Linked DNA regions of Homo sapiens. The protein of the gene in region 2 interacts with the protein of the main gene of each other region in a pairwise test. Each region holds a gene or a part of one and is shown on either strand. Other genes may lie near its edges. The genes, in order: NFIL3, FHL1, PDLIM3, AKAP12, CSRP3, EED and LAMA4.

The links.
Region 1: the proteins of FHL1 (region 2) and NFIL3 interact in a two-hybrid assay, tested with the Homo sapiens proteins (one large-scale study listed by BioGRID and IntAct).
Region 3: the proteins of FHL1 (region 2) and PDLIM3 interact in a two-hybrid assay, tested with the Homo sapiens proteins (one large-scale study listed by BioGRID and IntAct).
Region 4: the proteins of FHL1 (region 2) and AKAP12 interact in binary tests that used the Homo sapiens proteins (3 or more experiments, as listed by UniProt).
Region 5: the proteins of FHL1 (region 2) and CSRP3 interact in a two-hybrid assay, tested with the Homo sapiens proteins (one large-scale study listed by BioGRID and IntAct).
Region 6: the proteins of FHL1 (region 2) and EED interact in a two-hybrid assay, tested with the Homo sapiens proteins (one large-scale study listed by BioGRID and IntAct).
Region 7: the proteins of FHL1 (region 2) and LAMA4 interact in a two-hybrid assay, tested with the Homo sapiens proteins (one large-scale study listed by BioGRID and IntAct).

Annotation. Positions count from the first base shown.
Region 1 is NC_000009.12:91,413,456-91,417,546, forward strand, and holds part of NFIL3 (nuclear factor interleukin-3-regulated protein), read right to left. Parts: exon of another isoform or gene 2,111-4,091; intron 1-2,110.
Region 2 is NC_000023.11:136,199,859-136,203,949, reverse strand, and holds part of FHL1 (four and a half LIM domains protein 1), read right to left. Parts: intron 1-4,091.
Region 3 is NC_000004.12:185,507,768-185,511,858, forward strand, and holds part of PDLIM3 (PDZ and LIM domain protein 3), read right to left. Parts: intron 796-4,091; coding exon 532-795; intron 1-531. UniProt on the Homo sapiens protein: May play a role in the organization of actin filament arrays within muscle cells.
Region 4 is NC_000006.12:151,246,327-151,250,417, reverse strand, and holds part of AKAP12 (A-kinase anchor protein 12), read right to left. Parts: intron 1-4,091. UniProt on the Homo sapiens protein: Anchoring protein that mediates the subcellular compartmentation of protein kinase A (PKA) and protein kinase C (PKC).
Region 5 is NC_000011.10:19,198,729-19,203,521, forward strand, and holds the start of CSRP3 (cysteine and glycine-rich protein 3), read right to left. Parts: upstream 3,256-4,793; 5' UTR 3,226-3,255; intron 1-3,225. UniProt on the Homo sapiens protein: Positive regulator of myogenesis. Acts as a cofactor for myogenic bHLH transcription factors such as MYOD1, and probably MYOG and MYF6.
Region 6 is NC_000011.10:86,247,753-86,251,843, reverse strand, and holds part of EED (polycomb protein EED), read right to left. Parts: intron 2,396-4,091; exon of another isoform or gene 2,284-2,395; intron 1,549-2,283; coding exon 1,396-1,548; intron 1-1,395. UniProt on the Homo sapiens protein: Polycomb group (PcG) protein. Component of the PRC2/EED-EZH2 complex, which methylates 'Lys-9' and 'Lys-27' of histone H3, leading to transcriptional repression of the affected target gene.
Region 7 is NC_000006.12:112,132,098-112,136,188, reverse strand, and holds part of LAMA4 (laminin subunit alpha-4 isoform 1 precursor), read left to right. Parts: coding exon 1-66; intron 67-1,579; coding exon 1,580-1,722; intron 1,723-2,701; coding exon 2,702-2,840; intron 2,841-3,298; coding exon 3,299-3,436; intron 3,437-4,091. UniProt on the Homo sapiens protein: Binding to cells via a high affinity receptor, laminin is thought to mediate the attachment, migration and organization of cells into tissues during embryonic development by interacting with other extracellular matrix components.

The DNA.
Region 1 (4,091 bases), on a different chromosome or scaffold from region 2:
GGTCAGGCTGGTCTTGAACTCCTGATCTCAGGTGATTTGCCTGCCTCGGACTCCCAAAGTGCTGGGATTACAGGCATGAGCCACCACGCCCGGCCAACAATACTATTTCCTCTAATTTGCATTTAGGTTTTGTCCTCTAATATGAAAACCCAGTTTCCTTTACATATTGAATGGATTCTTTCCTCTGTTGAAGTCTGCACTCTGCCATTCAGCAAAGTCCTCCTGCTAAAGTAAAATGAGTGGAGAAGTAAAGAGGAAGATATCCCAGTTAAAGAAGACAATTGCACTGACCTTTCCCAAGGCACCTTTCAAATCTCCACTATACTCTTGGCCACTACTTTTTTCCACTTTTAGTTTTTAAACATCATATGATCCCTTGCAGACTATTATTCTGGTTATTTTCTCCACCTGAGAATCTTTCTCTTCCATGTGTTATCTTATTTGTTCCTTCTTAAAAAAAAAAATCAGATTCCTTTATTTTGCCTCACTTACTAGATTTACAGTAATGCTTTTGAAATGCCCCGCCATTCTGTCTGCCTTAGTTACTCTTCCTAAACTTCTAGGACCTTTTCAAGGTTGGGGCCCAATTGGGAAGGAGCCTTCACAATAGGTCCTATTTCTATTTAACTGAAATAGCCCCATTTGTCTTAAAATTTCCTTAACTCATGTCTTCTAGGTGTCTAAGTACTATATGACTACTTTATCATCTCTACAACTTTGTTGGTACATTAACCTACAGAAAACTTCATTTGCTTTTTTGTTTTTGAGACAGAGTTTCACTCTTGTTGCCCAGGCTGGAGTGCAATGGTACGATCTTGGCTCACCGCAACCTCTGCCTACAGGGTCCAAGCAATTCTCCTGCCTCAGCCTCCCAAGTAGCTGGGATTACAGGCATGTGCCACTAAGCCCAGCTACTTTTGTATTTTTAGTAGAGATGGGGTTTCTCCATGTTAGTAGAGATGGGGTTTAGTAGAGATGGGGAAACTCCATGGGGTTTCTCCATGGGGAGTTCAGGCTGGTCTTGAACTCCCGACCTCAGGTGATCTGCCTACCTTGGCCTCCCAAAGTGCTGGGATTACAGGCGTGAGCCACCTCGCCAGGCCACCTCATTTGTTTTTAATCATCTTCTTCCTATTTGAATTTCATGGCATGTCACTATAAATCTGTGATTCTGCTCTCATCTGTATGTATTACATTCATGGTCTCTACAACTCAATGGCAAATCACCACACTATCTTAGGATATTTTCTGTAATATTATCTATCAAATAATCTTGCAGTGTTGAAAAGAGTTTATCAGCATTATGGGATGATACGGAGACAGGCACAATCATATACACTGTGTGTGTTTCCACGTGTTTGTCTTTTGTGCCCAACTACACTGCGAATTACTTCAGGGCGGAAATTAAAATATACTTGTCTTCTAGCAAAAACCTGAAGATATTAGGTGCTCAACATTTCATTGACAGTCACCCATATACCTTATATAAGAGAGTTTTGTAAACAGAAAACTTTTTTGATGCTTTCTTTTTAATGTTATGTGAATTGTAAAGAAGATATTTTACTTATTAACAGAGAGATTCTCTTATTCATTAATTTGTTTATTCAACACATATGGAGCACCTACTGTGTACTGGGCACAAGGGGAGACTAGGGGCACATAAAGAGGGAGAGAAAAACCAAACTCCCGAGACCAGGCGCTCAGTCGTGGGTGGGTGGGAGACAAACAGGTGAGCAGAGGGGAACCAGGTGTGAGTGCAGAGTTGCACAAACATGGGCCTGGGGTGCAGGCTTTCTTCTTGTCATGGAGATAATAACAAAAACAATCATAATTGGTGCCATTTATTGAACACTTACCACAGAATGGGCACTGGGAGCCTGACCTGCTTTCTTTCATTCACTTTTGGTGACAATTTTCAGATAAGAAAACTAAGGCTCAGAGAAGTCAAGTGACTTGCCCAGTGTCACATAGCTAAATGGCAGAGCGTACATTCAGGCCCAGTTCCTTTACTCTCTCCTACACTTTCACAGGTGGTTCTGCATCTTTGCAATGCAGTCTCATTTACACACAGTTCTCTTTTGTGTCACTTTCATTTCTGAGTAATACATACCCTTTTACTAAGTTACTTTGGGCGCAGTAAGGCACTATGCTAACTTAACTACTTCTTCTTTTTTTTTTTTTTTCTTTTTGAGAAGGAGTTTTGCTCTTGTTGCCCAGGCTGGAGTGCAATGGCGCGATCTTGGCTCACCACAACTTCCACCTCCTGGGTTCAAGCGATTCTCCTGCCTCAGCCTCCCAAGTAGCTGGGATTACAGGCATGCGCCACCATGCCCAACTAATTTTGTATTTTTAGTAGAGACGGGGTTTCTCCATGTTGGTCAGGCTGGTCTTGAACTCCCGATCTCAGGTGATCCGCCTGCCACAGCCTCCCAAAGTGCTGGGATTACAGGCGTGAGCCGTCACGCCTGGCTCCTTAACTTCTCTTAGATGCTGTCTTAACTTCTTTAGCCAGCAAAGATACTATCTAGAACTTTTCTCCATCCTCCTTAGATGTTTCAGATCTGGCACTATTTATGAATTGAGAAAACATTTTATTAATTTTCATATCTTTACTAAAATTTTAACCTCCTGGCTATTCTAATTATGTTAAATAGAGAAAAAGAAATATGATAGCTGTGGACATTGTCACCTATGATCTTCTTCTTTTTTTTTTTTTTTTAACAAATCCAAGAGTGTAATCTGTTTTCAACATGAGGCGGGGGACAGTGTCTCTCTGACCCTCTCATTTTGCAGATTAATCAGCTAGAAGACAGGCTGACCTTCCCAAGACCACACAGCAGTTGGGCACAGATGGGCTCTGAGCTCTCCTTATGCCCCTCAACAATGAACTTAAAGCAAATGCAAAAGTAGTTTACGATGCCTTCAAAAAGCCTCAGGATTTATGCTAACCTAACAAATTTATTTCAAGCCTCAATATTTTCCCTTATGATTAATTTAACAATTACTTCATCTATGCATCATCTTTTCAAATCAACATCTAATGTTGTGGTATATTAGTCATTGCTTAAGTTTCTTTTTTGGTGAATAATTGACACTACATGCCAATTCTATGATGTTAGTGTATTCAGCACGATTAACTTCATTACACACATTAGATGATATGACTCTCCTTGAAAACACAAATAAAAAAGAGAAATTTAAGAGCAGGTATTATTACCTACCAGTTGACATATTTTTCCATACATACTCCGAAGGTGCCATCACTAATTAATGCTTTTGTATAGTCCATCACACTACTTCTCTAAGCAAGAATTATATAGCAAGAATTATATTTCATAAGCCCAGATTTTTAAAGTTTAAGTCAGATTACCCTATTGTTTTTAATTAAGTACAAGATTTGATTTAGAAAATTCTATAAAAGAATATAACCTCATAACAATAATTCTAGACCAAATTTATCCTTGAGGAGTTATCTCATTAGTTATGTTTATGATAGACCTTTATCTTCCCTGGTCTCTCCCAGAACTAATGTTTAACAATCCAAGCTCCACAAAAGAAAAGAATAAACATGCTTTGTTTCAATCATCTGAAATCTTACTAATAGTCTAAACATTAAAATCTACTCTGAGAACATTTTGTTATTAATTATCTATAAAGGGTAAGTTTTATTGCAAATTGCAATATATATTTTGTTTTTAAAATTCTGTCAATAGAAGATGAAATACTATTTGATATGCCCAATGATTTGGAAACATTATAGAATTATCTTATTTTCCCTCTACTCTCTGAATGTATTGTTTTCTCCCTGTTATATAATACAGATAACAGTAAAGGAAAAAAAAATGTCTTCAAGGTAAACCTAAGTTATGTTAAACTGTAAGCCACCTCTCCAGTAAGACAGCAGATGCTTATTTTTTAGATAAATGTCATTTTCATGAAAAAATCAAATCAATTAATCAATTCACATCTCTTTATACTTTTAAAGTATGAATACTAGCAATATGTTAACCCTACATTTTCTTCCTGTGGGTAAAATTCACAGTATCTGCGTCAATGAAATGCTTTACTTCTTTTCATGGATGAGAAAACAA
Region 2 (4,091 bases):
CAAATATTTCTAAGTTAAAGTACTATATAAAGTTCCACCTAAGGTGAGTCAAACCTCTTAGTATTTGAGTCCTAGCTTTATGGTAAGAAATACAGGTTAACTAGTGTCATACCAAAGAAAAAACACTAGAAAACACAATGAATGCCATTTAGAAGTAGAGGTTTTGAAGAGAAGGAAAACTGCATTATGGTTCAAAGTACCTGAGAGATCTTAACTGCCATGTTTTTCACACTTTAAAACCACACACTTTCAGTACTTTGATATTACCAGTGCAAAGTTCTTCATTGTTTAGTCTCATAGTTCTAGAACATGACTTGCTCAGAGTTCTAAGCATCCAGATGATAAAATAATCCACAGCTCACCAGTGAAGATAGAAGTAACAAAGGGTGTTGAAAATGTCAGACAATGAAGTCACTGGCCACTGTATCATTCCTATAGTACATGGTCTTAAACCAAGCAAAAGGAAAATTAAATGAATCAACCCCAAGTTAATAGTACCCATAAGAAGAGTTTCATCTCTTGGTATTTTTGAATCCTAGCTTTAGGCAAGATTTTTTCACTCTGAGTTTGAAAACTCTAGGGTCACCTTACACCTTAGATTCCCCACCACTCTATACTTAAACCTGCAGTCTGTATCCAGATGGAGAATCATTTCAAAGGGCATATTCTTTTAGAATACATTTCTACAATTCACTTGAGTCCTTTTAATGTGTGTGGAAACAATTAGTCTAGATAAAATAGGCACTTCTAGGAATGTTGGATTTGTTGCATAATAAGTAAACAGGCTAGAAATACTTAAAGTATGTTAACAATGTCTATGTCAAATTCATGAACTTTCGTATTTGTTTTGCAATAAATCAAATTAAGTGGAACTCTGGGCAACCTGAATTAGCTTACGTCACGTACTTCTAAATTTATGATTATTTGTTACAAAACAATTTCAAACCCTCATGCACGCAGTGTGCTCAGGATGAAGTTGGAGGAGATACTGATCACGTCACAATTTTGTATAAAATATGAATGATGTGCTGATGTGCACAAGACCAAAACAACTCTAAAAAGCCAGCTTATAAATGACAATGCTGAGACACACATGCAAAGATCCTGAGTGTGGGCTCCCTGAGTCTGAGCTACTATCAAGCTTTGACTTCATGAGGAGAGAAAAGCTTGCTCTTTCTTTCTTTCTTTTTTATTTTAGACGGAGTCTCGCTCTGTCACCAGGCTGGAGTGCAGTGGCGCAATCTTGGATCACTGTAACCTCTGCCTCCTGGGTTCAAGTGATTCTCCTGCCTCAGCCTCCCGAGTAGCTGGAACTACAGGCATGTGACACCACACCCAGCTAATTTTTGTATTTTTAGTAGAGACAGGGTTTCACCATGTTGGCCAGGATGGTCTCGATCTCCTGACCTCATGATCCACCTGCCTTGGCCTCCCAAAGTGCATTTTACAGGCGTGAGCCACCGCACCTGAGATTACAGGGGTTACAGGCATGAGCCACCGCGTCCATCCCAGCTTGCACTTTCTTTTGTTTGAAATGAGAGAATAGGGAAAAATGAAGATAGCATTTTACCTCTTTGTTGTTGTTGAGACAGGGTCTCGCTCTGTCACCCAGGCTGAAGTGCAGTGGTGCTATCCTGGCTCACTGCAACCTCCACCTCCTGGGTTCAAGCAATTCTCCTACCTTAGCCTCCTGAGTAGCTAGGACTATAGGTGAATGCCACCACGCCTGGCTAATTTTTGTATTTTTAGTAGAGACGGGGTTTCGCCATGTCGGGCAGGCTGGTCTTGAACTCCTGACCTCAAGTGATCTGCCCACCTCGGCCTCCCAACTTGATGGGATTGCAGGCATGAGCCACCATGCCCAGCCAGCATTTTACCTCTTCTTTTGGGCTCTCTTCAACCTTACAGAATTACATGTACTTAGGCATTTATTTCTTAGGGAATAATTTTTTATCCCCTTAGCTATTTCTAAGTACATGAAATGTGAAGGCCTTTAATCTTCCAGAACTTCTAGATATGTCTGCCTTGACCTATTGCTGTTATCCGGGAATGGGAGTGTCAGCCATCATTGAAGGAAACAATTGCTACACATCATCACCATGCTTCTTCCCTTACCACTTGTCTTTGTGGAGGGCATGTTTGCCCTCGGGCAGCTCTTTGACTAATTTTAATGTCTCGGTGTAGCCCTCATCTGTACATAGTAGGGATGCCAGAGTAGGTATTAGACATGAGCAGGGCAAGAGAGGGCCCCCCACCCAACCAGGAATGTCAGGCGGCCATCAGGTGAAGGTCAGATGGTTGTTAAACTATCTCTCGCTAAAATAATAATTGGTTGCAGCTGGCACCAAGGAAACACGGTCCCTAATAGACAGAAACACCTGAAACTGATGCTCAGCCACGTCCCCATGAGATCTCAGGAGGTGGGTAATTGGGCTCAAGCATGTGCACTAAGAGGCAAAATTGCGGTGTTTAACTGGTATAAGACCTACCTCTGGGAATGCTCTACTGCTAAGGGAAAAATCGCTTAAAGTAAGCATGCACACAACTTCAGTAAACACCACGCATGCGGCACTTCCCAAGTGCTGGCAGGCCACTGGGCATGCGGACAGCCCACCCCAAGGGAAGAATCAGGAGAGAAGTAATATAACACCCGAATCATGCCAACATATAAAAGCCCAGGTCAAAGGTCAAACCATGCACTTTTTGAATCTCTCAAGTAGCCTGCTTGGTCATCTTCTAAATGTACTTTACTTTCATTCCTGCTCTGAAACTTTATTTTATTTTTTGAGACGGAGTCTCACTTTGTCACCCAGGCTGCAGTGCAATGGTGCAATCTCTGTTCACTGTAACTTCCGCCTCCCAGGTTCAAGCAATTCTCCTGCCTCAGCCTCCCAAGTAGCTGGGATTACATGCGTGCACCACCAAGCCTGGCTAATTTTTGTATTTTTAGTAGAGACAGAGTTTCAGCATGTTGACCAGGCTGGTCTCCAACTCCTGACCTCAAGTAATCCACCCGCCTCAGCCTCCCAAAGTGCTGGCATTACAGGCATGAGCCACCGTGCCCGGCCTCCTGCTCTAAAAGTTTTTAATAAACTTTCACTCCTGCTCTAAAAGTTGCCTTGGCTTCTCCCTCTGCCTTGTTCTTCCTTGAGGAGGCAAGAAATGAGGTTGCTACAGACCCACAGATTCCCCGCTGCTAACATACTTTGGTGCCGAGTGACTTGGATACATTCCCTAGTGCTAACAAGTGGGGTTTCTCTATGACAGAAAGTTCTGCTCATACACTAGGGGGCCCCAGTACCTAATCCAGGGCTTTGTATACAGGAATCACTCAGTATATGCCTGTTGATTGACAGATGGAGATATGTTACCACAACTAAGTTTCTAAAACTTTGGTATGTGGATAGTCACTGAAAGTGGCTTCTGATCCAATTATCTGAGCCTCTATTTTGTCCATACCAACCCTATTTCAGGACCACACTGATTTCCTTTCTGTAAGGACTTCTTTCTTGGGCCTATTCTCCTCTGCTTTCATGGACTTATGAACCTAATGCAATATGACATACTATTTCCTGATTTTAAAAATCATCTTATATGACGTGTAAGGTGCTGAAGTCTAACCTACACCTTAGGTCCACATAAATGTCCCCTGATTTTCTAAGACAGAAAGCATCATTATTAAATAATTTAATTAAAAATTAACTAAATTAAAGTTTTACAAGCTTAGAATACAGTTAGAAATGTGGCTGGGTGATAAAATTTTAGACATTTATTCCAAAAGGGTAGCCTGACTTTCTATGCCTGCTTCAAAAGACACATCATTTTCACTTAATAAACAAGCTTCCTTTTTCAGAAAATTCTTGAACTACATCCAACATGCTGAGAGGTGCCTAAATAAACCTCAGTATCTTAATTAAAAGTTTTGGCTTTCAATTTAATCATGTACACATACAAGTAATATAACATTACAACATTTGTTTTTTTCTTTTTTCTTTTTTACTATAAACCTCTCATTACAGTCGATTTGTATTTAATAAATCTTGCTTGTGTTTTTACATGTATTTTCTCATGTATTTCTTCCTATTGTTCAT
Region 3 (4,091 bases), on a different chromosome or scaffold from region 2:
CCTAAAAACCTTTATGCACAATAAACATTGTAAATGAGTAAATAATGACCTCTCCACAAGCTGCTATCAGAAGAGAGAAGAATCATCTCATAAAATTCCTCTAAACCTCCCACCTCCTTCCTAATTTTTGATCCCCAAAGGACAGACATAGGGTATACTAGATTATAAATAACTTTGAGAAGTATTACACCAGATATTTGTAAAGTACATTGTAGCTTTCGAGAGACATATACATTTGGTCCTTACCTGATTTCATTTTATTGCTATCTGACACATAAAGCTCTACAGATAATTCCTCAAATCACCTTTATCACCAAGCCTAGATATTTGCAATAAATCCTTAGTATTTTAAAAAAGCTTTTCACATAGCTTTCTTTCCAAGCCTAGATATTTGCAGTAAATCCTTAGTATTTTAAAAAAGCTTTTCACATAGCTTTCTTTCCATTAAGACAATGTTAAAAGACACCAGTAAAGCTGACATTGCCCACGTGTTTAGTTAATATGCCCATGGTTCAAAGAGACTCATATTACCTCATCAAAGGTGTTTCCCCTAGGGCTGTTGAAACCTGACCCTGGAGTGTTTCCATAATATTGTCATCTGAGTACAACTGCATAGGTGTATTAAACTGAGCATGTACAATCTTCACACCAGGAAGTTCCATTTCCAAAGGAATGTTAGGGGCCAGCTTAGCCGCAACTTTCAAGTCACCTGGGCAAATGGTACTAACAGTACTGACAGAAGAAGGGGTGCTGCGTCCACTGCCACAGTCAATCCCGGAGGGAGTGCTGCATCCACTGTGTTAATGGATACACGTTACACAGAGATGGCACCGGGAGCCAGACAGTCCAGACAGAAGAACACAGAGAACACGTACAGAGAGGTTAAAAGGAATTGAAGACAAAAGTGAGAGGTGAATTACATCAAAATAAAACCAAATCTTGATTTGTCACTAGAATTTATTTATAAAGGGAAGACGGTGAAAAATTCATGATTGAAAAAAGTTTAATAAAATTAAAAGGTACAGGTGATACTGCATTTTTTGGCTCTGTTTCACTAGGCAATGTGTAATTTGAGGGTTACATGTAGAAAAGTTGTATATGAAGTAGAAAAGATGCAGCTATCCTCACTTTTTAAAAATAGGCCAAAGACTTTAAAACTGGTCAATATCACAAGTGATGAAGGAAAATTACATTGGCTGGACATCCTTTTACATTTCTGAAGTGCAACATTTAAAATTAAAGTTTTAGTGAACACTGAATATGCAGCATGAAGATGCAATCACATATTTGGGCTCAACATTTCAAAATCAGAAGTATATTTCAGTAATACGGTTGAACTTTAATTGAATAGTAATTGGTAACTTGTAGGTTTTATGGTACAGATTATGTTTTAAGGCTATCTTGTAAATATTTTGTTACTATTTTAACATTTTCTATTTTTACTCTTTAGTTCTGTGAGGAGTATACTTTAAGACAATTGTTCAGTGGTTTAATACAAGCCCTAGAAAAAACCAATAAATGCTTATCACCTTGAAATTAATGATTAGAGGAGAAATAAGGTGGTGTTTCACTCTTTCGATGCTTATATTTCTTACATAGCTATTTTATGCACAATTTCAGAAGCACGCATCTATTCCCAGGCATATTTCCCTTTTCCTTTTAAAGATACATTTCAGGGACTTATTAAAACATCAAAGGCCAGTCATGCACATCGAAGAACTAGGGAGATTGTACATTCTATTTGGAAACTGGATAGGGGTCAGTTAACAACTGACATGCTAGTGACTAAAAAGTCCATTTTTCCACATGCATGAGAGATACCAAGAGATTTTTGTAAAAAAAGCATAGTCATTTAAGACAAAGCAAAAAGAAATATTAGTATTAATGTAAATATTTATCATACTTTCCAGTTAGTGTTGCTGTAAGCTCAAGACAGAGAATGGATGTATATGGTGTGTTTACCGCTAAGTCAAGATTGTCTCTGGTCTCAAGTATGGCCCCATATCTGCATTTACTCTCTAGAGGTATTAATGCTAACTTCAGCCCATATAAAGATAAGAAACCAAAAGGTATTGAGCAGTAACTTTCTCTACTCCAGCAATGTTGCAGCCGGATTAGTCTGGAGAACTCATGTCACTAAATGGGTTTAAATTTTTTTTTTTTTGTCTTGTGCTATCCAGTTTAACTACCTACATAACCTAAACCAGACAGGTGAATACCAGCTTGCTCCTTCACTTCCTGCCTTTTGAGAACCTATTGAAAACCCAATCTGTACATTGTTTAGATCACATACCAAAATATCAAGTGGCCTATTCACCATTTTTGTACGATCTATAGTGACTCTTGAAATGGACTTCAGCTGGTAAAAGAATATGAGTACATTTTCAGTTGTAGTGCAGTTTAGTCAGGATCATGTGGATTTAACCTGAGTGTAATGAAGCTTATGAAATCAGTTTAGGGATTTGAAACACAGAGTTAAATCCTGGGAGACTTCGGCCTCCCAGTAATGAACCTACTCAACAAGCATTTATAACTACTCTCACCCTACTGTGTGCCAGACATAGTGCCCGTACTGGGTAGATAAACAATGATCAATTTAGAACTTTTACTTATGCCATGTTTTATAGCGGTTATTAGTAATATTTTTCTGCTATAAAAGCCATGTATAACTTTTGACTCCTCCAAAACTTAACTACCAATAGCCTACTGTTGAACCGAAGTTTTACAGATAAACAGTCTATTAGCACACAAATAGACTACTACCTATGTGTATTGTATACATTCATGGCAAATCTTTTTCTTAATTTTTTTGATATTTCAAGGCTACCATTAGTGACTTTTTTCAAATTGTCGCAAATCTCCAAAAATTTTTCCAACATATTTATTGGAAAAAAAATCCACATATAAGTGAACTTGCACAGTTCAAACCCGTGTTCTCAGGGTCAACAGTATATGCATATGTGTGTACTATGTAATTTTAGTTAAACATGCATTCCCAGTTCCTTTATCAATCAGGCCCATGTCTATTAAATAAATGAGTAATGAACCCTAAGCAAACAAGAATGAACTTTTATAAATTTCTGGGCCAATTTAAAAAGATCTTTTAAACTGATCCTTTAAGTAAACGAGTTTTCATGGATTCCAGTCACTGTGGATATCACTGGGGATAGCACCGTGGGTCACCACGACCTGTTCCTGATGACCTGGAAAGGCAGGTGCTAATGAGATTTTCTGGGGTTGACTTAGTGACTTGGCAAGGCCACTTGTAAGGTTGATAACACACTCAATTACTTCATGCCCAGATACGTCATTTGACAGATTGCTAATTTCTCTGGGGTGTGTACAGACATTTTGGGGCATACTTCCGGAAGCAACTTGTCCAAAAACCACTCATAGGATTGCATTTTATCATTTGGATCTAAAATACCTTACATATGTATTTAATTGTAGCTTTACCCTTAAAAATTTTACATATTTGTATATGAAAACACCAGTCTTTTAAAAGGCTTCAGTTATGATGAAATAATCAAAAGAACTATAGCTAATGGTAAAACCCCAGGGAAATTGAGCTGTTAACAATTTAGCATGTCCAACTTACTACTTTTTTTTTTTTTTGAGACAGTCTCACTCTGTTACCCATCTGGAGTGCAGTGGTGCAATCTTGGCTCACCGCAACCTCTGCCTCCAGCTTCAAGTGATTCTCATGCCTCAGCCTCCTGAATAGCTGCAATTACAGGCATGTGCCACCATGCCCAGCTAATTTTTCTATTTTTAGTAGAGATGGGGTTTCATCACGTTGGCCAGGCTGGTCTCAAACTCCTGATCTCAGGTGATCTGCTCACCTGGGCCTCCCAAAGTTCTGGGACTACAAGTGTGAGCCGCCATGTCCAGCACTAGCATGTCCAACTTACTTTTGATTAAAGAAGTTCATTAACAGTGTAGTTACAGGGTGACTATAGTTAACAACAATTATTTGTATATTTCAAAATAACTAGAGGAGTGGATGTGGAATGTTCCAAAGCACAAAGAAAGTTACTGCTCGAGGTGATGGATACCCCCAATTACCCTGATTTGATCATTACATATTGTAT
Region 4 (4,091 bases), on a different chromosome or scaffold from region 2:
AAGCGATTCTCCTGCCTCAGCCTCTAGAGTAGCTGGGACTACAGGCAGGCGCCACCACACCCGGCTAACTTTTTTGTATTTTTAGTAAAGCGGAGTTTCACCATGTTGGTCAGACTGGTCTCAAACTCCTGACCTCAAATGATCCACCTGCCTCAGCCTCCCAAATGCTGGGATTACACGCGTGAGCCACAACGCCCAGCCTATTTATTTATTTTTTTGAGACAGGGTCTCTGCAGCTTCAACTTCCCGGGCTCTAGTGATCTTCCCACCTCAGCCTCCCAACTAGCTGGAATTACAGGCATGTGCCACCACACCCGGCTAATTTTTAAATTTTTTGTAGCAGTGGGGTCTCACTATGCTGCCTAGGCTGATCTTGAACTCCTAGGCTCAAGTGATCCTCCCACCCTCACCTCCCGAAGTGCTGGGATTATAGGCATGAGCCACCATGCCCACCAGGTGTGAGCCACCATGCCCACGAGCCACATGTTGGTATTTATGTATGTATGAACTCACCATAGCCATGAAAGAGACAAGGGTAACACTTGAGATGTAGAATATAAAACTATTTTAAACCATGGGCTTGCTATTATAATTGATCAGATGTTTAGCCACTCCCACAATGCTTTCAGTTTATTGCACAAATAGACACAGCAGAAAAAATTTAAAAGTAAAAGGAAATCAATAAACAGGTTTATGCATATATGGAAACTTGAGTTTTAACAAGAGGTAACTTTTTAATCAATGGTACTGGAGCAATAGGTAACCCATATAAAAATGAATTTAAGATTTCTCCTTCTAGACATCATCAGTAGCTAGTGGAATAAAGATCTAAATATATGAAAGAGAGAACTTTAACTTTTTTAGAACTGAACTTCTGTTTCCCCAGTTCCTAGCACAGTTCCTGGAGTACAGAAGCTAGTAAAGAAGTATTTATGAAATGGCCAGGCGTAGGTGGCTCACCCTGTAACCCAGCACTTTGGGAGGCCAAGGCAAGAGGATCACTTGAGCTCAGGAGTTCGAGACCAGCCTTGGCAACACAGTGAGACCTTGTCTCTATTATATTAAAAAATAAATGGAAGAAATTAAAACAGAAATATTTATGAAATCAAGATTGAATAGTAAGTGGCTGAGAAAGCCAGAACTCTATTCTTCAACAACTTGGTAGGTTTTAAAATTTCTTTACAGATTTTTGGACCAGTCAAATGCCATAAACTAAGCCCTTAGCTACTGTCTACTTATTCAGCACAAGGGAAGTTTTAAAATGATAAATAAGGGAAGAGGGCTTAGGAGGCAATGAGATGGAAGGGGAACACCGAAAAGTCACAGCTTCTGGCTCAGTAGGGATACGGGCATTTCACTGAACACCTACTTACCTTGAATGGCACAATCTATTTTAAAAAGCCTCCGTTAGCAATCCACTTTTTTTTTTTTGAGACAGAGTCTTGCTCTGTCGCCCAGGCTGGAGTGCAATGATGCGGTCTCGGCTCACTGCAACCTCCACCTCCTAGGTTCAAGCGATTCTCCTGCCTCAGCCTCCCGAGTAGCTGGGATTACAGGTACACACCACCATACTGGCTAATTTTTGTATTTTTAATAGAGATGGGGTTTCACCATGTTGGCCAGGCTGGTCTTGAACTGCTGACCTCGTGATCCGCCCGCCTCGGCCTCCCAAAGTGCTGGGATTACAGGCGTGAGCCACCATGCCCGGCCAGCAACCCACTTTTTAATATAGTCAAACAAAGGAATGAAATTATGTGGAAGAAATATTTTCCTTTATTTTATCCTCCAGATGTGTGAAGGAAAATGCTACTCTTTCATCATGTGAAACCGTCCCTCTCACCCACACAAGTTCCAATCTCAGTGAAATCTGCACATGCTATCACCCAGTGTCACCTAGACCTGAACCTCTCCCTGGCCCTTATTCAGCTCTTACGCCTACTCCTTCCCCTCCCTTAAGGTAATGGAGCCCACACCCCACACATTAGAATATCTGATGAGCATTTTAAGACTACAGAATCCCAGCACAGTGGCAGGAGCTGGTAGTCTCAGTTACTCAGGAGGCTGAGGCCAAAGGATGGCCTGAGTCCGGGAGTTCAAGACTAGCCTGGGAAACACAGTGAGACCCTGTCTCTCAAAAAAAAAAAAAAAAATCACAGAATCCCAGACCCTGAGATTGCCTGGGATTCTAATTCAATAAATCCAGGATGAGGTGTAGGGGTGTCTTTGAAAAGCTCTCTAGGTGATTCAATAGCACCACCAGGTTTGGGAATTAGGAAAAATTTAATCCTTCAATACTCCCAGTTTGCAGTATTTGCATATAACAAATAGATGGTCAGCCAATAAACTGCAGTAATCTCTCCTTCTTAAATTTTGGTTTATTTCGTTTTGAAATCAAACATGAAACTGACATGCTACTACAACTGGGATTAAGATTAGGCAGAGAGAAACTACAGGGTTTCCCCCATTTAAAAAACATCACAGAGAAATCACAGGGAAGACAAAAAGCTTTGAACCTGAAATGAATACTTGTATTAAGAGGTGCCTAATGGTGTCCCGGTGTCCCAGATGGTTTCCTGTGCTTTGAACACCTACATTTTTCTCAGAAAATCCATGTATACCATCCAGTTAACAGAGCCAGGCTGTTTGCCGTGAGAACGGGAGAGGATCCCGGGTAAGCCTTCACTCTATTGTTTTCCCAAGAGGTGGATTTCTGCTGCTTCCAATCCCTGATCTCAACATTTCACGGATCATGACCACAAAGTAATTTCTGGCAACTAAATGATTTTAGATTGTTCCAAGAGAAGAAATTTTAAAAGTGATAGCTAAAGAAGTAGGTCATCCTCCAAGCAAATAAATTTAAAGATGGTTCATTAATTTGGAAAGGAAAAGGAGCAAAGGAGAGTAAGACTGCTCTACCTCAGCTGCGTTTTTATTCTTGAACTTGCTTTTTTCCAATTTGATTAATTTCTGGGGAAAAAGTTTTTTTGTTTTTTTGTTTTGTTTTGTTTTTTTAAATAGAGATAGGGTCTTGCTCTGCCACCCAGGCTGTAGTGCAGTAGCATGATCATAGCTCACTGCAGCCTCATACTCCTGGGTGGAAGCAATCCTCTCACCTCAGCCTTCCAAGTAGCTAGGACTACAGGTACACGTCACCGCACCCAGCTAAATTTTTTATTTTTTGTAGAGATGGGGTCTTGCTATGTTGCCCAGGCCACTCTTGAACTTTCTCTCAAGTGATCCTCCCTTCTTGGCCTCTCAAAGTGCTGAGATTACAGGTGTGAGCCCCCACACCTGGCTAGAAAAAAAAATCTTTAAAAATTAATTGGGCAGGGCATGGGGGCTCACACCTGTAATCTCAGCACTTTGGGAGGCAGAGGTGGGAGGATCACTTCAGTCCAGGAGGTCCAGACCAGCCTGGGCAACACAGTGAGACCTTGTCTCTACCAAAAATAAACAAAATTAGCCAGGCATGGTGGTGTGCACTTGTAGTCCCAGCTACCTGGTGGTGTGTGCCTGTAGTCCCAGCTACTCAGGAGGCTGAAGTAGGAGGGTCATTTGAGCCCAGGAGGTCGAGGCTGCAGTAAACCAAGATTGCACCACTGCATTCCACACTGGGCAACAGAATGAGAGCCTATCTCAAAAACAATAAATAAATAAAATTAAAGTTAAATGAAAATGAAAATGAAAATTAATTAACAGTGAAACAAACCATAGCCTTTCATGCTCTGACAGCCAGACCAGTGCATGATCAGATGGCAAGCACATGGCAGAGAAACATGATGAGGCATTCAACTTCACAGTTAAAAATGCACCAAGGAAACTGAGGTACCATTCTTCACCTAGCACATTGGCAAGTATTGGAAAATCTGATACCCATGAAGGCAAAGCATGGGAAAACGAGTGCTGATCTCCACGGTGGAACTGCAAAGTGGTAGAACCTCTTTGGAAAGTCAATTTAGGAAGGGTTAAATTTTTTGTTTTTGTTTTTGTTTTTGTTTTTGAGACGGAGTCTTGCACTGTCACCCAGGCTGGAATGCAGTGGTGAGATCTCAGCTCACTGCAACCTCCCCCTCCCAGGTTCAAGAGATTCT
Region 5 (4,793 bases), on a different chromosome or scaffold from region 2:
GGCTTTGGAAGAACCAAGCTTAAGTTCAGAAACACTAACTGTTGAACACTGGGCAAGTTGCTCAAATTCTCTGACCCAGTGTCCTCAATGCATGTCCTCATGTAAAGACAATATGAGAAGGCTTGTCTGGGAAGGTTGTTTTCAGGTTAAAGAAGATAATAATAGCTAAGACACCATATAGAATTACTTAATACATAGCAGGAATTGAATAATTGTAGTTACTTGCATCATGACTATTATTGTTGTTATTACATTATCTCCAGTTTTCAAGTCTGTTCTTTTAGAACAAACAACTCACTCCCTGCTTGTTTTCCATGGCCCTTCTGGTTCAGACTGTGAATCAGCTTTGTTTTTCAGCCTTTGGAGTGTGCGGTGCCCCAGGACAGGTGTGCCCAGGTCGGGGTGAGAGTCGGTCCCCTTGCGTTGTTGGATTGGGTTGGAGGCAGCATGCCTAGCCAGGGGCCCTGTAGTCTGGGGAGCTCATGCCCTTCAGTTCTCGGTGTAGGACATTCAAGGTCAGTGGCTGCTTCCTCCTGAGCTTCTGAACCCAGATATATGACGTCCTCCGGCCAGAGGCCCTTTCACAGAGCCCAGGAAGAACAGGTTGCTCATTGCCAGCATGGAAATAAACCTGAGTGTTGGCTCTCAGCCCCTTTTAAACTCAGACATGGTAGACATACATTAAATGAAGGCTGTAGAACATGGGCATCTTACACCTTTTGTGAAATTATATCTGAAGCGTGGCCAGCTTTTACTTCCCAAAACTCACTCTTTGTTCTATTTTGACCTCTACAATTTATTTCTAAAGACCACATCATATCCCAGTTTACCTCCTGGCTCTGCCGCTTTCTCAGCCATGTGATGCTGGGCAATTCCTAAGCTTTCTAGAACTTTAGTTTCTTCCTCTGAAAAATGAGTTTTGCATAACTTTTTGTGACCCTTAAATAAGCTAGTACTCGTTCCATGCCTGCCTAGGCCATAAACGACCATCAAATCATGATCAACCCTTTCCCACAGTAAAGCTCAGAAAAGGCTCCATCCTCAATGCCCTTTAAGACCATTACTGTCTCCCTTCCTGCCATTCTTCACTGGGATGAATAACTGCAGTTTTTCACATTTGCAGGCATCACATTTCTCTTTGTGCATGAAGCCCAACCCTCTATACAGTATTTATTCACAGATATCTGAACAGCACACTTGTAACTGGAAATCTGTCTGCCTCAAGACTTGTATTTCCTGTGTGTTATATTCCTAGCCCTGGGTCTTTCCTCTTGTAAAACAAATTAATTATCTTCTAACTCCTGGTCAGCTTCTTACCCACTCTGACCTCTGGACTTTTATCAGCACGCTTGTACTTAGCAGGAAACCCCCCCAAAACCCACTGGGTTTGGCTGTATGCCTTTTCTCAACGTTCTCACATATTTGTACGGTTATATTAAACTTTACAAAAGTACTTTCCTATACTTTATCTCATTCAATTCTCACAAGTCCCTTTGATAGAGGTAGGCTACCCTTAGTTTTATTGTTCAGAAAATGGAAACTCAGATAAGTTAAGTGATATTCAGAGCTATAATTTGAACGGGCTCTATAACTGATTATCTTTATTTTCTTCTTGAATATCCCAGGATTTCTGAGTTTCTATTCTATCAAGATTCTGTCTCCACTTCCTCCAAGGGAATTTTGGCTATTTGCTGGCTGAATGCTGCTGCAGCTCCCTCTTCCTTCATTCCTCTCTTCCTCCCTTCCTCCCTCCCTCCTTCTCTCTTTCCTTCCCCCCTTCTCTCCTTCGAAGGAGGAGGCCCCTTGCCCTGTGTCTCCTGTTTCTGATGGATGACACGTGTGTCTGGGCTGCAGAGCACCTGTCTGCCTGAACCCCAGGGAGGACACAAAGCCCTGGGGCTCAGCTACACCTCCTGCCCAATAGCCTGGGCTCATTGCCACTGACCACAAACGACTGAGTTGTTCAGAAAGGGAACAAAGCCAAGTCATAAGACTCCCTCACATTTTCTGGATCATAAAGCAGTTCTACATGCATTGTGATGAATTGTATGTACCCAGCATTGAGATTTAATCCCAGATGTAAACTGAGGACACAGGCCATCCCCAATTTCCCACTCTTCGTGCTGTTCACTTATACCCTTCCCTGCATAGAGCTGCCTCTACCTCCCTCCAGCCCTGACATAGGAGATGGTCCATACATGCTTATTAAATTACATTGAATCGTATTGCAGAGACAAGGTTCCTCAGACCAGTAACTCAACTCCTCCTTCTTGGAGGAGTCACCACCTTGGCTCAGGAACAGGGCAGAAATTAGAGTCGGCAGCTTGGATCTTTCAGCAGCATTTCCACTCAGACCATTGCTTAAAACCTCTTCTTATTCTCAATCACACCTATGTCTGTCATTCACTGGGATATTTTAAAAAGTCCTTGACTAAAACCTAGAGGAAACAGTGGGAATCCTAACCACTGGATAAATTATCCTCCCATTTAATAGAGCTTTTAATATATTTCAACATAGCAATGTCTTTTTGGGGTCCAGTTTTGATTAATTTCAAAAGATTAAAAGCAAACTTGTTGCTGAATATCTTTGGGATACAAAAGTCTATTTAAAATCAACAAGCCCAAAATCTCAGTCATTCACCACGACCTTTTGAATAACACCATTCCAGGTAAATTGAGCATGGGAAAGCTGTCTTATATATTGCATCTAGTACAATCGCTTATCGCTTTGTATCTGTGCAGTACTTTACAGTTTGGAAAAAATGTCGCCAATTTGTATTGATCCTTGCAGAAGAGGAGACCAAGCCCCTGAGGGCAGGAACCTTCTCAAAGTCTGTCATCCATGAATTATATGGTGGTTGTAAGACGAGAAGGTCAGCAGACTTTCCATTATTTCCTCCCGCTTTCCAGTTGTTCCAACTAAGATGACAGGAAATGTAATTCCACCACGTAAGTAGTTTTATAATGAGGATAATTCTTTACTCATTTATCTGCCTATGAGGTCCCTTAAGCCCCCTAAATATTAACCATCCTTGCAGGAATTTTTTAATACCTGCTAGATCCACACCAGAGTCAAGTACAACTTGAGCCTCCTTGCACAGAACCAGAGAGGGTGCTGGCACTTGAGACGTAAAATGTGCTCTTACTCTATGGGACCCTTTATAGTCCAAACCAGCCACAGAACCAACCCACCTCCAGCTCAAATGTCTGCCTTGCTCCACTCACCTGCCTGTGTGGACTCCGTTCAGCTCAACTGAGTCTGAGGGGCTCTTGTCCTCTTTAAATATATGAAGGCTGTCACCAGCCTTGGCCTGCTGGGGGAAGGGCAGGAGGGAGGCCAAGGGAGAGGGTGAATGAGACGTGAGTAACACAACTGCTATCAGGGGCTGAAAATAGACTGTGACCAAAGCCCTGAGTTTTGTCTCCCCCAACCCCCCAGCCAGCTGTGAGCCTCTTGGAGAACCGAATCACTTGGGTTCTATTTGCACTGCCAATTGCTTATGGCACCAAGGGATCAATTTATGAAGTGTGTCATTTCTGATCAAGTGGTTGGAACAGGAACAAGAGCTAAGGGTTTAACATCAAAAATCATTTCTCCAGGCCCCCACCCCACTGACCTTCCTGGAAATCATTGCAGGGTACCTGCAAATGAGTCATGTGCCATATCTGGGAGCCTCTGGAACTTAGAGCCACAGGTCACCACACTCGTGAAGAGAACTCAGAGCTAAAAATAAGGGTGATGGGTGTCTGAAACGATACTTAGATAATCTCTTCAAAGAAGCTTGGGAGAAAAAAGGTTGGCACATCACTTGGGACCTGTCACTCCATCTATCCTAGGAAACGAAGTTTTCTCTAAAAAGTTTTGATTTACTTTGTTATTATCCTTTTCTATTTAAGAATTTGATACAGCAGTGCATATTTATCATCATCACATTATATTTATAACATCTTGATATGTCTCTGTAGACCCATATTTTCTTTGGAGGTCTAATTTTTCTTTGTCTGGAATTCACACCGTTTAAATTTGATCAAGCACCAGGGACTGATATAAATTATGGCATTGAAAAGCTGACAAGAGGTTCAGAGATGTGAAGACCAATTCTTCATGTTATAGATGAGGAAACTGAGGCACCAAGCCCCTTCCACTCATGTTGACCCGGATGTTGAGGTAAGGTACATGTAGAACCCAACCGGGAGGTTCATGATCCAGCCTTCACATCAGATATTAGCCCTTTGGTTACCTGCCCACAAAGCAATTGTTGAAGGATAGAATATTTCACTGTCAAGAAGGTTGCAGTAATTTCACAAAGACGGCCGTGGCATAGCCTCCTATGAGATATCCGTGGTCTGTGTTTTCACTAAATGGCATCTTCATCATAAAGACGAGGCAATCACGAGGATTTTAGAAAGTTAAAGCTAGAAAGGACTTTAGAAATCGTCTAGGATAGTGGCTTTTGTTTGTTTGTTTGTTTGTTTGTTTAGAGAAATGGTCCCGTTCTGTTGCCTAAGCTGGAGTACAGTGGCATGATCACAGCTCACTGCAGCCTCGATCTTTTGGGCTCAAGCAATCCTCCTGTCTCAGCCTCCTGAGTAGCTGGGACTATAGGCGCACACCAGCACGCCTGGCTAATTTTTTTGTAGGGATGTGGTTTCACCATTTTGCCTAGGCTGGTCTCAAACTTTGGGGTCAAGTGATCTGCCCACCTCGGCCTCTCAATGTGCTGAGATTACAGGCTTGAGTCACTGAAACTGGTCAACCAATAGTAGCTTTAAAATTTTTTTTGTGTGTGTGT
Region 6 (4,091 bases), on a different chromosome or scaffold from region 2:
ATCACAATAAACTGGATAATTTTGGTGGATACAAAAGGACACAATTTATTTTTCTGAAACAGGAAATTAACAGATGGCCTTAATAGCTTCTCTGGCATTCACTAAATTTTATAAGGCTAAATTTTTCCCTTGTAAAGTGAAGCATAGCAGACTCCATTCAAATCACTGTTTTCTGTTAGTCAGAATGAGAATATCTGAACACTGGGGACTAGGGGAAGAAATAAACTGTAACTGCACAGTTACCAGGAGGCTATAGGAGATGTACAAAGAACAATTATGCACTTTTGTTCACAAAGTTATTTTTCAGCTTTAGGATTTTACTGGCCAACTTCTGGCATTTAACACTGACTTTCAGATGCAGTTTAAGGCACTGTTTTCACTTTTAAAGTACGTCTTTCGTTTTCTCATCATTTGAAAAGCCACAGCTTTAGGATTTTGAAATACTGCCTTAAGTATAAAAGGCAGCTAAAAACATCTTCCAGGTACAGTACCTAAAAGTAGTACGTTAATGTAAATAAATATGCACATGAAACTATAATTGACTTTTAAAAAATATGCTGAGATTAATTTCTCTCCTTTTACAGGAGCAAAATCTGACACACTGAGCATCGAATTTTTGCTACACAGACAGAAAAATGTCATAGTCATAGCTTCTTATGCTTTCCCAAAACTTTACTTATAAAAAATATATTTGGATATTTAGAAAAGGTTTTAACTTACATATGTATGAGATAATACACATTTTTCCTCAGTATAGAAAAAAATAGCCTCACATTTAAAAAACAAACTGGACATATATAAAAGAAAATATCTTAAACACCAGTAACCCCTTTTATAAAGTAAATAAAAATACTATTGGGGACAGATTAATTTAAATAACCAAAACCCCCTTTTCCCTAAATATTTAATATTAAAAAGTTTAAAAATTTTTTACACCTTTTTCTTTGAAAACAGTTATAAATAAAACAAAGGACAGAAACTGTACAAAGTAAAACATCTGTTTCAATTTATACTTAGTCAAAGTTAATGGGTTACATTCAGTTCTTTTTAAAAACTGATGCCAGAAGTGGCTTATGTTTTTTAAGTTTTACTAAAATATAAAGAGTAATAGTTACCCAAATCTTATAATTTGAATGCAAACAATAAAGCAAAAACATCCTGCAACACTGTCACATATTTAAATTAAAACAACAAAAAACAAAACCAAAAAACTAAACATGGGATGGACTAAAATAGATACGCAGTCTGAACTACAAAAAAAAAAACCCTTCAGAAAACATTGTAACTTTAAAATATTTACAACTTGACAGAGTATCCTGAGTACGAAATGCGTGCCACAGAGAAATAATTTCTGAAGCCTAGCATTCAGCCCAAAGGATCTTTTTTTGCACATACCTTGAGACTATTTACACATTTGAAAGAATATTTGCATTTCTTTGACTTCCATTTTCCCTTTCCCCAACTTTTCCTTCCAGGTGCATTTGGCGTGTTTGTAGGTGTATCAGGGCGTTCAGTGTTTGTACCACTTTCTATACTGACAGCGTCATCCTGTAAGCAGTAAATGAGGAAAAATTACATGAAACAGCAATACTGTTTTTAGCAGTAAATAACTCTACTGGGAAGATGCTGACTGACCTAAGAGAAATAATTTCTACAAGAAGAAAAAAATGTATTCTTGCCTCCACATAAGGATAAACATAATCCAGCTACAGGTTAGAAGGTTTGTAGATATTTTATATTTCAACAAAAATGAAAATGAAATAAATACTAATGAGAATAATGGAAGAGTAATACTGTCTTTAATAAGGCACTGGTCTGTTCCAGTCACTTTAATACACTGTATCAGTGAATCTTTACAGCTCTTTACAAAAGGTACTGGAAGTGCTGAAAAAGCCTAACTGGTCTCTTGGCTGGTAATTCCATCCCAAAGCTGTGACTCTTAAATCTGACTGATGTATATGTCTTCATAATGTATTTGACTGCTGCTCAGTCTGGAGCATGGAGCTGGGGAGCCGTTTGAAGCAGGAGTGTTAATGGCTTCTACATTAGATGTCACTTTTTAAAATCCTGTTATTCAAATTCTGCTTATAACGCAAAACATTTAGAATTTTTTTAAAGTGCTACATATATTCTATGCTATTTACAAGTTAAAACTGTCTCATTGTTCTAAAGTAATAATACTCATAAATCAGAACTCCAGAGACTCTCAATCACAATTAAAGTAAATCCTTCCAAAAAAAAGAAATGACTGCAGGAAACCTTGAAAATTCTCCTAATTCATACCTTATCTCACACACGAGTGGCCCTCTAATCTCAGCTCTCTAATCTCAGAAGAGGATTCCACTACCTCCTGATTACAGATTCCAATGTCTCCTTTGGAAAGAAAAGATTTATTTAATCTAGGATCTTAGGGCAGCAGTTCTAAAATACATTCCAGAGGAAGCCTTTTTTTTTTTTTTTTTCCATGAAATGCCTATTAAACAGCCTAGGAAACACTGCTTTAGGGGCTATTTTTAAATTATTGCTTCCTAAAGTTGGTTTTATATAGAAGGTTAAAAAATATCATAAATGAAATAATAGGCGGGTAGCAAGCAGTACGTACTCAACAAATATTTGAATTGTAATTTAATGTGAATATCATTAGTCTTTACAGAAATAGAAAATGTGGTATTTTAATCTCTTTTTCTCTCCACCTTTTCAGTTGTATTCACATAATTAACATCAAACGTAGAAAACAATTCTGTATCTCAGTGGAAAACTATGCATTATCTATATAGCACATCCTTCCAAGTTACCAGACTATAGCCCTCCACTATGTCTTTGAGCTATCTTACAACTCTTTTTTGAGACAGGCTCTCCCTCTGTCACCCACTCTGTCCTTGGTTCAACGCAACCTCCACCTCCCAGACTCAAGTGATCTTCCCCCCACCTTAGCCTCCTGAGTAGCTGGGACAACAGGAGCTGGCCACCACACCCAGCTAATTTTTGGTAGAGACAGAGTTTCACGATGTCGCCCAGGCTGGTCTCAAACTCCTGGACTCAAAGGATCCTCCCACCTCAGCCACCTAAAGTGCTGGGATTACAGGTGTGAGCCACTGCGCCCAGCCACAACTCTTTTTTCATTATGAATAACTGATAGACATGTAAATTTTGTCTCTACAGTAGAGGTTCAAAATGTCTTCCCTTCCACTCAAGGGAAAAAAAAGTTTCTGTCTCCATTTGGAATTCATCTCTCCATTCCTTTACTCCATATATTAATAAATTTGTACTGTTTTGATTTTGCGGGTTAACCATTACTGTATAACATTTGCCTGGTTCCCTCTGAGTAAAAGTTTCAACATGTGTTCACTTGCCATTTTTTCTGTAAAATTACCTTTTAACACTAGAGAACTGAAATTTTAAAAACTCTAAGACGTTTTTATATATCAGTTTCTTTACATTCTGGCTAAACACTGAGCTGCCAATACAGAGGCCACACAAAACATTCGTTAATAGGGCACGTTGCTTATTTTACTTCTGATCACTTAATTTACCCATCTCCTCCCAAGGCAAATCAAGATGGAATCAAATGAAAATGTAATACAGCCACCATGCTTCCATTTTATCTTTAAACTAAAATCAAGTCTTTGCTGAGTGTCTAATATATGTACAGGGTGACCTCCATCCTATTCCATTCTCAAAGTAAAGAATGATACTGTGCAACAGACATGGTACTACCATCTTCACTTGCCCAACGAGGAAAGAGACACAGGGCAGTAATTTGCACCTGCATCTTGCCACAGGGATTCCCTGCATCTTTGCTTTTGCTTAAGCAAAAAGACAAGTCTCCAGATTCAGCCCTCTGATCTTACTACCAAGGCATCCATTAGTACTCTCGCAGAAGCCAACTACTCTGCAGTCATATGATCTCAAAAAGTTCAATAAAATGGCAGGTAACACAATAAATGTAAAATATGTGCCTGTAATTCTCTGACTCACATTAACAGTAGTAACTGCTCAGGTTACCTGAACTCTAACACAAAAACATATTCCCCCACACCCCATCTGCTTTGGCCTTTTGCCATTATTTGGCTCCCTCAAGAGTAAAACTA
Region 7 (4,091 bases), on a different chromosome or scaffold from region 2:
GGTGGCCCTGTGCATCTTGAAGATACGTTAAAGAAAGCTCAAATTAATGATGCAAAATACCATGAGGTACAAATCATTGTAGTTTGGTTGGTTTTGTTTTTGTTCTTTATACTTAGATCTGTTGATCTAATCAGGCAGTCAAATGAGACAGGCAGGATGGTAAATAAACTGAGAACTTTCATATCTAAAGAGCAACTGAAGGACCCTCATCTTCTCAACCCTAGGAAAACATTTACTTTAAAACATTGGATGTATTTTTCCTGTTGATGTTCCAATTTAAAAGTCACTGAAAGATTCCTTTTAATTGCTTAATTAACCAGAAGGCTTCTATTAATCTTAAATATCTCAATTGGTATTCCTACAGGATACTTCTATACATTTGTTGAATGAGCCAGAGTGTAGATACACAGCCTTTTTTTGCTTATCCTTTGAGCCCCACCAAATTTAACAAGAATACATATAAGTAAATACAGAATTTCCTTTTAAACCACTTATCCAGAATTTAGAAAATACTAGCACAGTTTTCCTTATAAAGAGAACTCACAAAGAATCCCCTTTAGTTTTGAAACAGATGTGCAGACTACTGAAAATATACTTCATCCATTTTCATTAACTATTTTAAATATACAACTTAATAAAGTGTATACAAGGCATAATATCTTTTAAGTTGAACCAAAATGCGAAGGGTAGGAGACTGTATTTCCCTTTTCAGTTCAAAGTCCATAGCCTCATGAGAATGGTTTACAATAAAAGAATATTTTAACTATTTCTCTGACTAGCATTTTTGCAGATTCATTAGAACTGCTCACTGTGTCACCAAAAAAATTACACCTGGTAACATGCAATCTAGATTCCAGAAGGCACCTGCTTGGGAATACAATAGGGGTCACCAGGGGTTAGGGGATAGGGAAATAAGAAATTGCTGTTCAATGTGTATACAGTTTCAGTTGTGCTAGGTGAGTAAGTTCTCGAAATCTGCTGTACAGCATGGAGCCTATAGTTAAAACTAATTTAAAATTTATTTAGGATAGATCTCATGTTAAGTGTGCGTAACACACATGCTCACACACACACACACACCACAAAGGGACACAAGGAAATGCTGGGAAATGTGTGATATGTCTCTTACCTTGATTGTAAGATGATATGAGTGTTTGCATATGTCCAAGCTCATCAAATTGTATACATAAAATATGTGTAGTTCTTTGTATGTCAACTAGACTTGAATAAAGTTGTTTTTTTAAAAAAAAAGAGAATGGTGGCACCTGTTTATAGTTCTTTCCTGAATCCTCTCAGAAGGAGCAGGAGGAAACAATAGGTCTAATCGCAAAATTTTTCTTGGGCTGGCTCCTCTTCATACAGACCTCCTTTCCCAGAAAGTGTGAACTGCTGCTTGTAGAAGCAAGAGTTTTCAAGTCTGTGAGAAAAGAAAATCTATCTATTCCCCATTTTGTGAACAAACAAGCACAAAGGCATGGAAGAACAGCTAGTATACCAGGAGAATTAAAATATATAGAAGTCATCAAAGAACTGAATATTAAATAGTTAATCAAGGCTTACTATATATTATCTCTCCCAGATCTCAATCATTTACCACAATGATAAGAAAATGATCTTGGTAGTTGACAGAAGGCATGTCAAGAGCATGGATAATGAAAAGATGAAAATACCTTTTACAGATATATACATTGGAGGAGCTCCTCCAGAAATCTTACAATCCAGGTAAGGCTTTTTGTTAAGTAGCTGTTTGTTCCTAGCAATGTACTGGGCTGGCAACATCCAGGAGAGGTCTAGTAACAGTGTACGCACCCTTACTTGCTACTTTTACACACAGGGACAGGCACAGGTACACACATTCATGTACCTTCAGGCCCTCTGCAGTCAGTCCTCAGGACCTCCTGAAATTAGCATCGCATAGATGTAATCACAGATTTCTTCAATTATTGTATTACTCTTAGAACATGATCTAATGCAGTATTTCTCATCAATAATAGGAACGGTGGAACATGTGTATTGTGTGAAGACAAAACAGCATTTGTCCATTTACTTTTGCTTTAGCCTTAAACCCATTTTGAACTCTCCAATAGCATCTGAGCTACACAAATTTTTAAGGTTATCCAAAGGGTTGTGTATTATGTATAATGAAACATTAAGACACTCCCCTAAACTTTGTTGATTACAGATGTGTTGGAAATAATGCCAAAATGGATTCATTAATGACGTGGATTAATAAAAGTCTGAAGACCTGTGTTCAAATCCTAACATCACTTGTGACATAAGAGAATAATTTATTTCTTAGTTTCATTTCTTAGTTTCATTACGTTAAACCCTGTGAAATTACTAAGAATTGATTATATTTCTGTGTAACATGTTAGTTCCTATGATTCAACCTAATAATCGTCTGCTAAAGGGAAATCATAGCATCTCCATCTATTTCACTGAATTGTTATAAAGATAAAATGAGATAATGTAAGTTAGAGCATTTTGAAAACTGTAAGGAAGAAATTGGCTTGACGTAGAACAAAACTCTTCTATAGGCAAAGATTAGACATTGCTGTGTGCCTATCAAAGAAAGCATGAGAATATGAATGATTATAAAGCCATTACAAATGACTATAAATAAATGCAAATTCCATAGCCTACATATGCAGGGTAACATCATCATCATGGCTGTATCAGTGAGGCTGACTTTCTTTTCCAGGGCCCTCAGAGCACACCTTCCCCTAGATATCAACTTCAGAGGATGCATGAAGGGCTTCCAGTTCCAAAAGAAGGACTTCAATTTACTGGAGCAGACAGAAACCCTGGGAGTTGGTTATGGATGCCCAGAAGACTCACTTGTAAGAACCACTCAGTCAAAAGCTTTTTAATAGACACAATACTTATCACTCTCAAAAGCTGGAAAAGTTCTTTTCAGCTTCTCTCTGATCCTAGGTACACCTTGGGTTCCTTTCTGCCACCACCAGAAAGAAGAACCATTAAGCTAGAAGGGCTCTTGTGCATGGGGTTCCTCTGTGACTTGTTCGTTTGCTTCAGTTTTCCATGGGTGGGGCATCTAACACCCAGAGAGGGTGTGCTAGCATCATTGTTCACTCAGGTTGGAGTCAGTGGAGAAGATGAAACCCCATCTCTCAGAGGAGCTCCTAGTGTATGCCTGAATTCCAACATAGACCAGAAGTGGGAAAATAAACTATTTACGTAGAAATTAACAGGCAAGGCCTTCCGTATGTGAAACATTGATAGTTTTAAGCATTTGATAATTCTCAAAAACACTATCTCCACTTGTTCTGGCACACAGATATCTCGCAGAGCATATTTCAATGGACAGAGCTTCATTGCTTCAATTCAGAAAATATCTTTCTTTGATGGCTTTGAAGGAGGTTTTAATTTCCGAACATTACAACCAAATGGGTTACTATTCTATTATGCTTCAGGGGTAAGTGTTTGTTTTTCTCTGAGGAAACTTCTTTGTGATAATTGTTTTGCCTATTAAAAATAATTTGTAATGCATGTTAGAAGTGATTTTCTATTCAGATTAATTTTGACTCACACGTAGACACACAGAATGCCTCATTTCAAACACTTTATAAAATATTCTATGTATTGTATATCAGAAGTTCCTAACCTGGAATTCATAGACCCACCCCCAAGGGTTCATGGATAGAATTCAGGGGGGTCTGTGGACTTAATGCGAAAAGATTACATCTTTATTTTCTCTCACTGAAATTGATCATTTTCTTTGATTATGACTCTAGGCAACACACCACAGTAGTATTACCAGTACCTGTGACTTTGTCATTAATAGAAATCACAGATTTTTTTGTTTCACATTACAATTGTCACAGAAATCTCAGAATGTCATTTTTGCTCATTGCTACTTCTAATGTTATTAGGTCTGCTATGGAATCTTATTCTTTAATGCCTTAATAAAAAAGTTATAATAATATCACAGATTATTTTAATATTTTGAAAACTGTATTTCAGTATGATTGGTTTCCTTTGTATTATTATATGTTTTGTTTTATACATTTAAAAACATTATTTTGTGAAGCGGTCGCTATCTGTTACCAAAATGCCAAAGGTGTTTCTGG